2 separate regions of the Homo sapiens genome follow, and region 2 is linked to region 1. The links come from fine-mapping of genetic effects on gene expression. A gene starts in region 1. The other region holds a variant in brackets. All regions are shown on one strand. Distances are between the middles of the regions. Region 1 holds the start of PYROXD1 (pyridine nucleotide-disulphide oxidoreductase domain 1). Region 2 overlaps PYROXD1 (pyridine nucleotide-disulphide oxidoreductase domain 1).

What was found.
Region 2: its variant is fine-mapped to the expression of PYROXD1 in whole blood (INTERVAL, PIP above 0.99).

Annotation. Positions count from the first base shown.
Region 1 is chr12:21,433,610-21,442,145 of GRCh38, forward strand. It overlaps PYROXD1 (pyridine nucleotide-disulphide oxidoreductase domain 1), which reads left to right and starts at 4,046. Exons shown (of 12, transcript NM_024854.5): 1 at 4,046-4,205; 2 at 6,759-6,839. The coding sequence starts at 4,122. RefSeq lists enhancers at 3,875-3,954, 4,005-4,194.
Region 2 is chr12:21,459,755-21,467,754 of GRCh38, forward strand. PYROXD1 (pyridine nucleotide-disulphide oxidoreductase domain 1) reads left to right here. Exons shown (of 12, transcript NM_024854.5): 8 at 1,271-1,400; 9 at 2,254-2,366; 10 at 2,986-3,108; 11 at 7,727-7,864. Among named protein-coding and RNA genes, the nearest start is that of PYROXD1, 26 kb to the left of the region's middle. The variant G/GT (reference allele first, on the strand shown) is at 4,383.

The sequences.
Region 1 (8,536 bases):
GCTCACACAAATCCTAAAATTTTAACAATCAGCTCTCACAGATTCACAGTTGTACCACACCACTGATTCATAGATATAGGAAGACAGCCTGCGGTATGGCAAGAATGACACCACGGCCATGATGACTGATGTTGGATTCCTGCATACTAAGGTGTTCTGCAGCAAGGTCCTTAAACAATGCCCATAGCATAGATAACCCTTCAAAAGAAACAAAGCTTGTAACTTAGATAATTCTCTCATTAAGATTCTTATCTAGACTCCCCAGTGTTCATGAGTTTTGCAAGAAAGTCTGAGACATGATCAGCTGTACATCTTTTATCCTAAAAGCTTACATAATTTCTGGAGGGCAGGTGTGGGGATGCACTGTAACAGAATCATCATTTCTGTGTGTAAGTCCCTATTAAATACCTCTTTCTGAGAAACTGGATTTGTCAGTTTTTCTTTGGCCTCTCAGCTCTCTCAGCCTTTGGGGGTAGGTTTGCATATATATGCTCATACAGGAACAACAGTGAGGCTCTTTCCTCTCCTTACTCCTTACCCACCCTCCAATCTTAAAGCCCCTGAAAACATCAGCTCTTAGTTAGGAGAAGAGCTGGAGCAAAAAAGCAACAAGAAATCAATTTGCGTTGCCTGTAGTTAGGTGAGGCTTTAATTGGATGCGTGTCTGGAGTTTTGATAATAGGTAGTACCAGACTTTTTATTACCTGAGAATGATCAGATAAGCTAAATTAATAAGAATTTAGAGGAGAAAAATACATTCACAGGAAAAGCGTTGAGAAATAAAAATGTTTGCTTTAATTTCTTCCCTATAAAGTCCAGCTTGTTCAGTAAATCAGTTATATGAACTAACAAAACAAAGAAGAGGTTTCGAGTGCAAGATGAATCCAGGCTGTACTTACAGCGAATTGGCAAAAACCAAGATAAAAATGAGAAGATATCCAAGATGTTTCAGAAATTTCAGGCTTGAAGATTCAGAGTAGATTGCATGAGAGATAGACATTTGGGAGTTAAAAGCATAATAGGCTTGTTAAGGTTATGATCATAGATAAAATCCTTTAGACAGAGAAACATAGTCTATTCAACAGGGCACAGGCAGGCAACTTAACCATTAATCCTACTAAGAGGCACGCACTATGCTAGGAAGTTTAAATATGTTGCCTCACACATGCATCAAAACAACTCTACAAAGTAGATCTTATACCCGTCTTGCCAATGAGGAAACTAGGGTTCAGATGAGGTAAATAACTCACTGAATGGTCACACAACAAAGAAATGCTGGTGCCACATTTGAACCTAGGTCATCTGACTCAAAAGCTATTAATCACCAACTATGAAATGTCATTATTCATTCCCAATTTTTGCAGTTGAAAATTAACCTCAATACTCCTATTCTAGGCATTTCTGATATCAACTTGAAGAAGAATGGAAGACTAGATTTTGATGGTAGTTTGAAAGTTGGGGATGGCCTTCAAGAGATTAGGTGGGTATGGGAATCAGATGTAACAACATTATGGAGAGAAATAGAAGAAGATAGCTTTATCTCCTTCAGTTTTTCCACATGAATCTTGAACTCCCCAACCACTTTTCTTTCTTTCTTCCCTTTTACCATCTCCTGTATTTCCCATGCTCATTCCTGCTGCTAAGCCTTTGGTTCTTGGGATATTTCCCACATGACTTGCCACATCTTCTTCTGAACCTATCCAAATGCTATGGGCCTTTGAGATTCAATATAAATTCCACTTCTTCTCTGAACCTTTCTTTGCCAAGTCCTGCTTTTCTTTTCCACCCATAAACATACACCATAATATTTAGCAATACACTGGTATTTCTTTGACTCCTCAGAAACAGTCACCAGGTCACTCCTAAGCTTGCTGACCAGAGCTAAAGGGGAGCTGAAGTTCTGTCTTTTCTGCTTCTCTGCTGCTTCCTGGCATTGGGCCTCCCTTATTTCTAGGTGCCCAGTTTTCTTTGCAGTTGCCCTTTCTCCTAACCTGTACCTATTGCTGCCCTCCCTGTGGATAACATGTTTCAAGTTACCTACATCTTACTTTTAACCCACTTTACATCCAGTATATGTATCTAATTTAATCAACATTAAGGTGAGATGCACTGAAAGTTCTTTAACCCTTAGACATTTCTAAAAGTTGGATATTCATGCCAGTGTGGCAGGCAGCTAGGTCTTATCCCTACATCACCTTTGACAAAAAAGCCAGCCTTCACAAGGGGAAGAAAAAAGGAGAGTGTGGAGTCATTACCCCTTTACATTTGAGGAGCCTCCTACTACTTTGCTTCCCCTCCCACAGACGATGATCTCCTTCCGTTTCCCCTGGGAGCTTAAATTCCACTCCATTCTTCCTTCCGACTTCCATAAAGAGGAAACCCCTGTCACAATATACAAGAGGATCCTGACCCTGGACAATGAATCTAAAAATCTTTAGAAGGACTTCAGGGGAGTTTCATGCTCCACCAACTTCCTATTTCGTTGAGCACATTTTTGTTGAATACATACTCCCTACTAAACATTGGAGATACAAAGGGAGACAAAAATAATCCCTGAGATTATGTAAGCAGTTTATGGTGGTGGTGGGGTCAGGCAGTAAGAATTTACAATAAAGTGGGATAAGTCTAAATTTAGAGGATGACAAAGTGCTATAAGAACACACGGAGAGGACACCTAGCTGTCTTGAGGATGTTAGATAAAGTATCTTAAAGGGGAAGCAATGGCTTGATGAAACCAAAGGTTGATGAGTTAGCCAGGGAAAAGTAGTTGGGAAAAAGATATGTGCAAATGCTCAGAAAGAAAATGGCATATCCTGGGATCTGGAAGTGTAGTGTGGCCTGAATGGAACACAGTGTGAGTGAGATAATGTGAAAATAAGCTGAAGCAAGATGAGATCTAAATGGGCTTAAGGAATGTATTTCCTCCTCCTAGAAATGAATGCTTTGTTTGGTTGCTATACTAGTAACAGGAATTAGACACGTTTATTAAACCGCTTACCATTTAACTTGGTAAATCAAAGAACAATGATTTTTACAGGTATCAGTAAATGCCTGTAATTAGATACGTGGTAGGCTTTCCTGTTAATATATAATGGTTATTCTCAGTGTTTAAAGAATTAAAGGGACTCGGGTAATTACCAGTTTTAGAGTGAACCATTTGAGAGATAATACCTTACCATTACAAAACAACTCCTAGGGAAAGTTATATGAGACAGCAAAGGTAATAGTAAATAGTAAAATAATATGAATAGTGAATAATATAGTAAAAACAGTTAAAAATGATTTAGCAATTTCTTAAAAACAATTGACCACGAAAAAAATTCACAGTAAAACCGAGACTGGGAATATTTCATTCAACCCTCACACATGCTGCTATTGACTGGAAATTTAAGAAATGTTCATTTGTTTTGACAAAATGGAAAGCAACTGTACATTCTTCCTGGAAACTTTAGCTGAGGTCAAAGTTGTAAATGAAAAGGATGATTTTTTAGAGAACAATTCAGTAGTATTGTTTTGCCTTGTCATGAAGAATTTTTGTGCTTCCACAAACAAAAATCTTGGATTGTTAGGTGAACGGTGGCAATCAAGTGGTTTTCAGAAGACTCAAGTTTCTTCATCTACAAAAATGACAGGAGTGGGGTCAGGATGTTCCCGAAGGCTCCTTCTACTCATAAGAGCATAAAATCTGTGCCTCTAATTTCTCGCAGAAACAAATAATGAGAACTTCACACCAATTCATTTATTATATGAATGTTTTGTCCCGTGAGAACACTGGTCTATCTTTAGATATGTAATTTATCAAACTTCTTTGGGCAACCCATCTTCTTTACTTTTTTATTTTTAATTTTTTGGTTTTCTCTTTGTCAAATTTTCATGGAATAACTACATTCAGGTGTAGTAATAGTAACGCAAAGCTCTGAACACCACGAGACAATTCGTTGCTTCCGAAACGCAGCCGGCAGCAGGTACTCGAGATGAGTAGTGTGAGCTCCCGAGCACCCGTAGGTCGGATTATCTGGTAAGGCACCGGAAGTGACCGCCTCGCGGCTGCTTCCTCTCCTGGAGTCCAGAGTCCCGTTGCTCCGCCGCGATATTCAGTAAACCACTGGGAGTCCGGCAGCATGGAGGCAGCGCGCCCTCCCCCGACGGCAGGGAAGTTCGTGGTGGTCGGCGGCGGCATCGCGGGCGTCACTTGTGCGGAGCAGGTAGGGCGGTGCTCAGGCGGTTCCGCCTCTTTCCCCGACCCCAAAGGGGATAGCACTGGAGGCCTTCCTCCCACCCCCTCCCTTTTTCTTCTTCCGGGTTCCTTTTTTGCTGCGCCCTTTTCCGCACTTATTGCTCCCAGATTTTAGAAACTGCTTGGTGGTCCTCAGATGACCTCACTAGCTTTCTCTTAGGCGCAGGGAGGAGTGGGAGGCAAATTATAGCCGAGAAACCAAAGCTGGCTGATCCGTGCTCAGATCCTTGTAATGTCAGAGCAGACATGAGGACTTTGTATTTAGACAAAAAATTCAGCCCCCTTTCTTTTTATTTTTTTTTCTTTTTCTTTGAGACGGAGTCTCACTCTGTCGCCCAGACTGGAGGGCAGTGGTGCGATCTTGGCTTAATGCAAGCTTTGCCTCCCGGGTTCAAGCGATTCTTCTGTTGCGTCAGCCTGTAGCTGGGATTACAGGCGCCAGCCACCACGCCCCGCTAATGTTTGTATTTTTAGTAGAGACGGGCTTTCACCATGTTGGCCAGGCTGGTCTCGAACTCCTGGGCTCAAGCAGTCTGCCCGCTTCCGCCTACCGAAGTGCTGGCATTACAGGCCTGAGCCACAGCACCCGGCCCTCAGCCCCCTTTGTTAATTATCGTAGGTGATTGAGTTTAGTTTCCAGATAGTTGCCAAGTCTTTAGTGCATCTTAACTAATTAATAAAGAATCCCATATGTAAGTTTTCTATACTTCGAACTCCCAAGATAGAAGAAACTTTATTTCTAGTAAAGTTTTGTAAAATAATCAGCGAAGGATTAAATGCATGTAGGGCTTGCTTTCTTGATTATACTGAATAGCCAGACCATATATATTCAGATACATGTGTGTATTCCAAAAAGTTCTACATTATTTTGTTGATATAAAGTAAACATGAGCAATCACTGAAGTCATAAGAAATAGTGGAAGAAACTCAAGTGTTTCCATCGTTGGATGCGTATTTTCCGTTTATTCACTAAGTAAACATATATGATGCAGGCACCGTATTAAGGGCTGAGTGTTCAACTATGAACAGCATGGTATATACCATGCTGGGGACTCACAGCCTGCTGGAAGAGACAATATTACAATATTGTATGTCTATGCAAGAGATATCAACGGTTATCTTAGAGGTGCCTGTGGAGTATGTAGGGAGTGAATTAGGGAAGAGGAAATTTTTTTAATCAAAGAAGGTATTTTTAAAATCTCATTATGAAAGAATGAGTGAAAGTTTACCAAGTATTCAAGAAAAGAATGTCATCTCCAGTGGAAAAGCATGGATCATCAGGGAGCAGTAAAGCTTAAAGCATAGATCATAAGGAGTCTTAGCATGCTGAGAACTTAACAAGAATTTACAAGTAGTCAAATGTTTTTGAGCAGTGGAGTAACTTGATCATATGAAAAGGCTTGAAAGATGATTAGTTACAATGTATTTGTGGCAGAGGCAGCTGGTTTATACGTGAAACTGGAGAGCCAATTCGAAGGTGATTTCAGTAGTATAAAGAAGTTTTGAGGACCTCATCTAGCAATGGAAACAGCAGAGATATAAATTACAGAATATACAGAGGAAAGAAAGATGGAGAGAGTAATGATATTGTCAAATATAGAAAGTTCAAATAAAATGAGACTGAGAAGAATCGCATGGGTGTTGGGCACGATAGCTCACACTTGTAATCTTAGAACTTTGGGAGGCCAAGGTGGGAGGATTGCATGAGTCCAGGAGTTTGAAGCCAGACTGGGCAACATGGCAAGATCCCATCTCCATTAAAAAAAAAATAAATAATCCCTTGGATTTTAAGGATTCATAGATCCCTCAAACATGCTGTTTTAGTGATGGAGTAGGAATAGAAGCCAGATTATTGAGGGTGGTGGTGTCGAGGAACCAGACTTTGAGATAAGAAAATGCTTTCAGGTACAGAGTGAAGAAGACCGAGGTTGTAGCTAAAGGAAAATAATGAAACATTAACAAGTTATACCTCTAAATTTTGTGGAAGCAATTATTAAAATGGCTTTATCGTCCCACAATATGTACTGACTGGAAGAGGCAGAATAGGAGTGCCAGAGCACCTGGGGAAAGTTAGACCAATATTCTAAGTGTTTAATATTGAGGGTTTGCTTTAATTTCATCCCATTGAAGACAAATGAAATATTATTTTAAGATAAATAGAAGTTGGTTTAACTGGTAATTAGGAAGATAGTTTATTCTCATCCTCTGCATTATAACTCTAAATTGGTATAAAAAATAGTTGAAGTAAATAAAGGATATTTCTTTATATCACTTTTCTTGTTCAGGAGTTCTTTGTTAGTGTTTACTGTAAATATTATTTTCTCAGTATCAGAGTTTAATATTATTCACCATTGCCCCATCAAGACCAAGGATAATGGAGACCTTTAGATGAGGAACAGTGGGTTTTTAATTTTCTAGATTAATTACATTATTAAAATTGCATTATTCTCAACCCCAAACCATATATACCAGTACTTAAAGTAATTTGTCCTAATTTTTTTTCTCTCTTTTTAAAAATAAGTTGGCTACTCACTTTCCATCGGAAGATATTCTCTTGGTAACAGCTTCTCCTGTTATTAAAGCAGTTACAAATTTCAAGCAGGTAAGAACCTTTGTATAACTTGTTAATATTAATTTGAAAAAATTGCAATAACTTGCATAGCAGTTAGGGTAATTGTGTATTTTTTTCTTTCTTAAAAATTGACAAGTACAGTTATATGCTGTACAACATGATGTTTTGATACATGTATACATTGTGGAATGGCTAAGTCAAGCTATTTAAAATCTTTCCAATTTGGATGCCTTTTATTTCTTTCTGTCACCTAATTTAATTGCTCTAGCTAGGACTTTAGTACTGTGTTGAATAGAAGTTGTGAGAGTGGGCATCCTTGTGTTGTTCTTGATCTTGGAAAAGCTTTCAGCTTTTCTCCATTCAATATATTATTAGCTATAGGCTTGTATATGACCATTTTTTTGTTGTGGTACTTTCCTTCCATACCTAATTGTTGGGTTTTTATTATGAAAAGACGTTTAATTTTGTTGAATATTTTTTCTATATCTGTAGAGATGGTCATGATTTTTGTCCTTTGTTCTGTTAATGTGGTATATCACATTTACCGATTTGCATATTTTAAGCCATCTTTGCATCCCTGAATAAATCCCACTTGATTATGGTGAATTGATTGCTTTTTTTTGAGATGGAGTCTCACCCTGTTGCCCAGACTGGAGTGCAGTGGCACGATCTTGGCTCACTGCAAGCTCCGCCTCCTGGGTTCACGCCATTCTCCTGCCTCAGCCTCCCAAGTAGCTAGGACTACAGGCGCCCGCAACCATGCCCAGCTAATTTTTTGTATTTTTTAGTAGAGACGGGGTTTCACCATATTGGCCAGGCTGGTCTGGAACTCCTGACCTCGTGATCCATCCACCTCGGCCTCCCAAATTGCTGGGATTACAGGTGTGAGCCACCGCGCCCAGCCTGGAAAGTTTTCTGTTGTTATTTCTTTAAATACATGTTCTACTCCTTTGTCTTTCTTGTCTCCTTCTATAACGCCTATAATTCAAAGATTTGCTCATTTGATGCCATCCTTTAATTCCCTACTTCTATGTTCTTTTTCATTCTTTTTTCTTCTTCTTCCCTTCTGACTGTATATTTTCAAATAATCTGTCTTCAGATTCACAGATGTTTTCTTCTGTGTGATCAGTTCTCTTGTTGACATAGTCTGTTGCATTTTTTTTTGTTTCATTCATTGCATCTTTCATCGTCAGAATTTCTGCTTTAGTTTTTAAATAACTTTTTAAATTTTTTGTTTTGGTTGCTTATTGTTTTTCTGATTTAATTGAATTGTTTGTAACTTCTTGAAGTTCCTTCAGCTTCTTTAAACAATTATTTTGAATTCTTAGGCAGTTCTGACATTTGTGTTCTTTTGGTGGCATATCTTCTTGGTTTATCATGTTTCTTACTGCCTTATGTTGATGTTTGCACATTTGATGACACACTTGCTGTTTTCAGAAGTATGGGCTAGTTTTGCTGTGGAAAGACCTTCCCCTATGGGGAGGGCTGCTTGCTAGATGGGATGTAGCAGTTCTGGCACCAGTGAGGGTGCCCACTTTGTAGTCTGTGCAGCTCCGTCAGCTGAGTTAATTGTTGTTGAAGATTGCAGGGATCCTCAGCATCCAACTCTGGATGTCTGCAGTGGTAGTGAGGGTTGTTGGGGTTTTCAATGTCAATGGCTGCTAATAGCCTCCCAATCTTTTCTTCTCCCACAAAGGAAGTTGTGGCTTAGGGGATCCCTGTTGGCA
Region 2 (8,000 bases), 26 kb after region 1:
CCCACACACATTTGGTCACAGAAGTATTCTGTGTTGTGAGACTATAGTAGGAGAAACTGAGTTTGTTTTTTCCTATATCCTCAGATCAGGGATAGAGCTTTCTATACCCAGACTACAGTGAATACTCCTGTCCTATTTTAAATTAATCTTTTCTCAAAGGTCACTTCAGATGCATGCAGTAAACTTACAAAAGTTATTAGATGGATTGGAAATACACACTTAATACCCTAATTGGATAAGGAGATGATTTGCTTTTCCTCATTTTGTTAGATATTTTGATTTTTTAATAGTTGTTAAAGGGCTGTGAAATCTAAATGCTGTAAGAAGCATGCATGCAGTCCTTCGTTACTTTGTGTGATTTCTTTAGAGCATTGGTTTTTGGCTTTCAGTAGGTAGGAGGGGAGCTGGCTGCACGGTGTATCTAATTTTTGTGATGGAAATTACACAAAGTCCCTTCTTCTTGCACCTTCAGATCCTAATATTATATTTTTAACCTGAGAACTTCAACAGTTTAATTCAATAAGCATTTATTGAGTATTTACTACCTACGTGGGACTTTATTAATGTTCAGGGATACGACAGTAAGTCAGAACTGACCTGAAGAAAATTTTATAGTCCATAACTGTTGTCATTTTTTAAATTTTTATTTATTTATTTATTTATTTATTTTATTTATTTATTTTTTTTGAGACAGAGTCTCGCTCTGTCACCCAAGCTGGAGTGCTGTGGTATGATCTTGGCTCGCTGCAACCTCTGCCTCCCGGGTTCAAGCGAGTCTCCTGCCTCAGCCTCCCGAGTAGCTGGGACTACAGGCGCACACCACCAGGCCTGGCTAATTTTTTAATTTTAGTAGAGACAGGGTTTCACCATATAGGCCAGGCTAGTCTTGAACTCCTGACCTCAGGTGATCCACCTGCGCCTCGGCCTCCCAGAGTGCTGGGATTACAGGCGTGAGCCACTGTGCCCAACAACTACTGTAATTTTTAAAAAATGCATTTGTAATTATCAATGAGGCCTAGGCTAAAAAGCATTCCCTCGATGCTATCTGCTAATGCAGCTACCAGATCTCTTAAGTTACTGAATGAATTTTTGTTCACTCCTTTCATGTGCATAGAGAGACTTATTTTAGGGCACCCAATGTGGTTTCATTTATATTATAAGAATTATGTTTTCTATACATTTCTACAAGTATACGTTTTTTCTTCATCATTAGTAACCCGGGTTATTCTTTCTGTAAGTATTATGCTAACCAGTATTTTCTTAATTTTAGTTTTCTCATAAGATTCACCTTGAAACTATGTGTGAAGTAAAGAAAATCTACCTTCAGGATGAGTTTAGAATTTTGAAGAAAAAGTCCTTCACTTTTCCAAGAGACCATAAGTCAGTTACAGCTGATACAGGCAAGTAATGAAATAAGAAAAAATATATATAACCACTTAATTAAAAGGAAAACAATTTAATCCTGCTGTGTTCTATTAAAAATAACTTCGTATTTCCATATAAAATTTAAACATGAAAAGTAAAAATAAAACCATAATTTAATAACATTAACTCACTTCATTTCACTGTCTGTTGTTTTCTAGTAAATTAAATCGTATAGGGCATTACATCTTACATAGAGCTGAGTGTTTTGACCAACAATCAGAATATATTATAAATCAAAATAAGACAAAAACCTAGAGCTCTTAAAGGTGACATGATTTCACCCAAATCAGATTGAAAATGTATATTTTTGGGACTAAGATGCAGCTCTCCTAACTCCAGTTCCACAACTCCTCTGAGAATTGCCATGATTTGAAGAAATACACTCAGTTAACTAGCATATGAAATATTCTACTGTTCTGAATTCTTTGAATTTTTCCATAGGAAAGGGGAATTTGAATATGAGTAGTGAGGGAAGACACCTAGTTGAACTAAACACTTAAGTGGAGTGTAAAGTATTACAAAAGATTTTTAGAGAAATAATTTAGAAATAATTTAAATGTACTTTGTCAAAATTTATGTGTCCAAATTTGAAGGAAAAACATTTAAAATGCCATGGTTTTAAAATTATACCCAAACGAGATGATGCTAATTGCATTAAAATTGCTTTAGCAAATATGCCTCATAATAATTGCTAAGGAGTGTGTTACAAAGTTATCTCTTGCCTTTCTTTTTCTTTCTTTGTTTCTAGTCATTGTAGTCACATACACTGCTGTGGTGATGGTTCCATTTACAAATAAAGTCTGTTTTTTTGGTTTTTTTTTCTTAAAGAGATGTGGCCTGTCTATGTGGAATTGACCAATGAAAAGATATATGGCTGCGATTTCATTGTCAGTGCTACAGGAGTTACACCAAATGTAGAACCTTTTCTCCATGGTAACAGTGTAAGGTGAAATTTTTTTGTCCAGCTGTGAATATATTTGAAGTATTTTTGTGAAGATCTCTAATTCTCAAACATGAATAATTATTATTTTAGTGTACAACTGTAACTTAACATGGTTGGAAACAGTTTGGTTAAAACATTGTCTTGATTTACAGTATTTTTTACTGCTTAAAATCCTTACATAGTTATATCCTTGCATAAGCGTCATCAGTAATGGTTTATAATGTACAATTTATTTATCTAAATGTTGGTAAGAGACTGACACCTCCCGTGACTTCTCAAAAATGATTCTTTTAGAGAAACCATCTTGTATTTTTTGCTTTTCAGCACTTGAAGCTTACAAAAAAAAAAAAAGAATATTCTTGTAGTTATGGATAAGGTAGTCACATGGTTATTGGATACTTTTCATGTTGAAATTCTGACAGTTTTATGGATCAGTCTTAGTTGGAATTTGATCCATGGAAATTCAGCTCAGGTGTCTAAACTTTGCTGATATTTTTCATTTTCTCATTAAAGATGAGCATGCAAAGTGTAACAATTTAATTTGTTCTTTTACTTTAAAATGGAAAAAGTCGTTTCATTTTTCTTAACACTTAACGCTTATGAGGAATGTTGTTTAGTTTGATCTAGGAGAAGATGGTGGCCTGAAAGTGGATGATCATATGCACACATCCCTTCCTGATATCTATGCTGCCGGTGACATCTGTACTACATCCTGGCAGCTGAGCCCAGTCTGGCAGCAGGTAAGCTAGCATATATAATTATATGTTTTCATCAGAGATTCTGTCTGAAAATAAAGCGGTTGTTACCAACAAATCCAACTTCTGGTTTTCCAACTTTTCTGCTTAAGTAGGAAGCTAGCACAGTTGTTATATATATTTAAAAAAAAAACTAGAATATTTCCCTGTTTGGTAAGTTATCATTATAATGGTAGACTGAGACATCTTTTACTTTAAAAGAAATTATGGGCTATTACTTTGTTTTTCATTCTTACCTGCTTATCAGCACTGTCCAGGAGAACTTTCTGTGATGATGGAAATGTTTAATTCCTCACCATCTAGTCAGGTAGCCAGCAGTATGTCACATGAGCACTTGAAATGTGGTTAATGTGACTGAGGAACTGAATTATTTTTACTTACTTCTCATTAACTTTAAATATATGTGGCTACGATGTTGGACAGCACAACTTTAGATTAAAAAAACTACTAAGATTGTAAATTATATAGAAAAGCATTCTATTCCTTTATGATCCTATTCTGTCCCTGTGGTAATCATTACTAAAAAATGTTCTGGGCGCAGTGGCTCACGCCTGTAATCCCAGCACTTTGGGAGGGTGAGAGGCAGGTGTATCATCTGAAGTTAGGAGTTTGAGACCAGCCTGAACAACATGATGAAACCCCGTCTTTACTAAAAATACAAAAAATTAGCTGAGCATGATGGTGTGCGTCTGTAATCCCAGCTATTCAGGAGGCTGAGGCACAAGAATCCCTTGAACCTGGGAGGCGGAGGTTGCAGTGAGCTGAGATCGCACCACTGCACCCCAGCCTGGGCAACAAGAGCAAAACTCTGTCTCAAAAAAAAAAAAAAAAATTCCTGTAGTAAACACCTTTCCTGAGCCTTAACAAGTCCCAACTGGATCTAGACTTTTTCCTACCCTCACAGCTTTACCTACCTCCTCCTAACGGTGGAACAAAAATACTAGAGGAAGATAAAGACAGTGACCAGAGGTGTGCAGAGGGGTAGAGACCTAGGTAGATGTTTGAAATAAAGGAACCAGGCAACATTTATCTTTGTTAAAGACCAGCTCCACAGTTAGGGACATTATTCATTCAGATTATGCAGTGTGAAGTAGGAGAAGAGCTAAAAGTATTTCAAGAGGCAGCACCATCATTTTGTGTTCTTACAGACAGTAGAGACATCAGTAAGAATGGTTCCAGCCTTTTTGTTTCTAACCTGCCTCATTCTATGTCATTTCTGTGGCAAGACTATCACAAATTCTTAGAGTTGGAGTTTATGG[G/GT]TTTTTTTTTTTTTAACATTTTTAATTCTCTAGGGTAAATTATATCTTAATGTGTTATAATCTGAAAGAGGGGAAAAAATCCGAAAATAAACAGATGGCCTTGTTTTGAGTGCACCTTATAGGCCCCATTTCTTGGCTTACACAAGCAATAAGGATACTAATTTATGCAGTTCAAGATGCAAATTTTCCGGCCACTTGTATTAGCTGTTCTCTAGTTGTTACTGTGCTCAGTTTATTCTGACCCCCAGCCATAAACTGCCTTTCACTTCATCAAATCTATAATACCTTGTTTACAGAGGAGATTGAAAAAAAAAAATCTATCACTTCTGCTAGAAATGCTTAAAACTCATGTCTATGATTATGATATTATTTCTGCAAACAAAAGACAGCATTAAGTACATATGCACATACAGGGAGGTAGAAGGAAACCAAGTGCTTATTATACGCTAACCTGTTTAATTCTCTCAATAGTTACAGAGTAGGTAGTGTTATGTTTACGTTTCAGGTAAATGAACCGAGGCCCAGAAAAGTTAAATATATATGTAGATCTGTTGATATTAAAATCCACTGTGACTCCCAAGGTCAGTGTTTTTTTTTTTTATTATTATATTTAAGTTTTAGGATACATGTACACAACGTGCAAGTTTGTTACATATGTATACATGTGCCATGTTGGTGTGCTGCACCCCCACCCCACAAGAGTCCCCGGTGTGTGATGTTCCCCTTCCTGTGTCCATGTGTTCTCATTGTTCAGTTCCCACCTATGAGTGAGAACATGTGGTGTTTGGTTTTTTGTCCTTGCAATAGTTTGCTGAGAATAATGGTTTCCAGCTTCATCCATGTCCCTACAAAGGACATGAACTCATCATTTTTTATGGCTGCATAGTATTCCATGGTGTATATGTGCCACATTTTCTTAATCCAGTCTATCATTGTTGGACATTTGGGTTGGTTCCAAGTCTTTGCTATTGTGAATAGTGCCGCTATAAACATACGTGTGCATGTGTCTTTATAGCAGCATGATTTATAATCCTTTGGGTATATACGCAGTACTGGGATGGCTGAGTCAAATGGTATTTCTAGTTCTAGATCCCTGAGGAATCGCCACACCAACTTCCACAATGGTTGAACTAGTTTACAGTCCCACCAACAGTGTAAAAGTGTTCCTATTTCTCCACATCCTCTCCAGCACATGTTGTTTCCTGACTTTTTAATGATTGCCATTCTAACTGGTGTGAGATGGTATCTCACTGTGGTTTTGATTTGCATTTCTCTGATGGCCAGTGATGATGAGCATTTTTTCATTTGTCTTTTGGCTGCATAAATATCTTCTTTTGAGAAGTGTCTGTTCATATCCTTCGCCGACTTTTTGATGGGGTTGTTTTTTTTTTGTAAATTTGTTTGAGTTCATTGTAGATTCTGGATATTAGCCATTTGTCGGACGAGTAGGTTGCAAAAATTTTCTCCCATTCTGTAGGTTGCCTGTTCACTCTGATGGTGGTTTCTTTTACTGTGCAGAAGCTCTTTAGTGTAATTAGATCCCATTTGTTAATTTTGACTTTTGTTGCCATTGCTTTTGGTGTTTTAGACATGAAGTCCTTGCCCATGCCTATGTCCTGAATGGTATTGCCTAGGTTTTCTTCTAGGGTTTTTATGGTTTTAGGTCTAACATGTAAGTCTTTAATCCATCTTGAATTAATTTTTGTATAAGGTGTAAGGAAGGGATCCCGTTTCAGCTTTCTACATATGGCTAGCCAGTTTTCCCAGCACCATTTATTAAATAGGGAATCCCTTCCCCATTTCTTCTTTTTGTCAGGTTTGTGAAAGATCAGATAGTTGTAGATATGAGGCATTATTTCTGAGGGTTCTGTTCTGCTCGATTGGTCTATATCTCTGTTTTGGTACCAGTACCATGCTGTTTTGGTTACTGTAGCCTTGTAGTACAGTTTGAAGTCAGGTAGCGTGATGCCTCCAGCTTTGTTCTTTTGGCTTAGGATTGACTTGGCGATGCGGGCTCTTTTTTGGTTCCATATGAACTTTAAAGTAGTTTTTTCCAATTCTGTGAAGAAAGTCATTGGTAGCTTGATGGGGATGGCATTGAATCTATAAATTACCTTGGGCAGTATGGCCATTTTCACGATATTGATTCTTCCTACCCATGAGCATGGAATGTTCTTCCATTTGTTTGTATCCTCTTTTATTTCATTGAGCAGTGGTTTGTAGTTCTCCTTGAAGAGGTCCTTCACATCCCTTGTAAGTTGGATTCCTAGGTATTTTATTCTCTTTGAAGCAATTGTGAATGGGAATTCACTCATGATTTGGCTCTGTTTGTCTGTTGTTGGTGTATAAGAATGCTTGTGATTTTTGCACATTGATTTTGTATCCTGAGACTTTGCTGAAGTTGCTTATCAGCTTAAGATTTTGGGCTGAGCTGATGGGGTTTTCTAGATATACAATCATGTCATCTGCAAACAGGGACAATTTGACTTCCTCTTTTCCTAATTGAATGCCCTTTATTCCCTTCTCCTGCCTGATTGCCCTGGCCAGAACTTCCAACACTATGTTGAATAGGAGTGGTGAGAGAGGGCATCCCTGTCTTATGCCAGTTTTCAAAGGGAATGCTTCCAGTTTTTGTTCATTCAGTATGATATTGGCTGTGGGTTTGTCATAGATCTTATTATTTTGAGATACGTCCCATCAATACCTTATTGAGAGTTTTTAGCATGAAGGGTTGTTGAATTTTGTCAAAGGCCGTGTTCTTTTATACCAGGGAGTCTCAAAACTTCATAGAAATAAAATAAAAATACAATAGATGAATTAATACGGTCATGCAAAACAATTTAAATGACTTCCCAGAATCAGTTGCTGAGATATTTATGTTGTCTTGGTGAGGCACCAAGAGTCTGTCTAACCACTGAGGTTAACAGCACAGCAGACCTTAAGTAGTGCATAAAAATGAAGGTTGCTGGAAAATAGAACAAATTCTTCAGTGATAATTTGACATCTCTGTTAATGGTGATGACAAATTTTTGAAGAAGGGACTGGTTAATTAAAACATTTTTCTCACCTGGTATAGCTTAATATAGTTTCATAATATTTAATAGAAATGCTACTAAAACAGGTGTGATTGGTATCATCTTTTAATTTTAGAGGCAGTAATTTAGATAGAATTAACAAATACCAAAAATCAGTCTGATTAGTTATCCATTGGTGACTGCTTCTGTGGCAAAGATGACAGAAAGACTGTCAAACATTGAACTCCTTTAAGTGAATTTACAAGGTTAACATTTTTCAGATAATGATCATGAAAAATGACATTGTGTAACATTTTTTCATCATTTCAGATGAGGCTGTGGACCCAGGCTAGACAGATGGGATGGTATGCAGCAAAGTGCATGGCTGCAGCGAGTTCAGGAGACTCTATTGACATGGATTTCAGCTTTGAACTGTTTGCTCATGTGACAAAATTTTTTAACTATAAGGTAAGATAGTTAAGCATATTAATGCCTTCTCTGCTTGTTAGTCTTATGACTATGATAAATCATGTGATTTTCTTGCTTGAATAAAAACGTACATAGTTTTAATCATCTACAAAAAAATGACATTTTTCATTTCTTA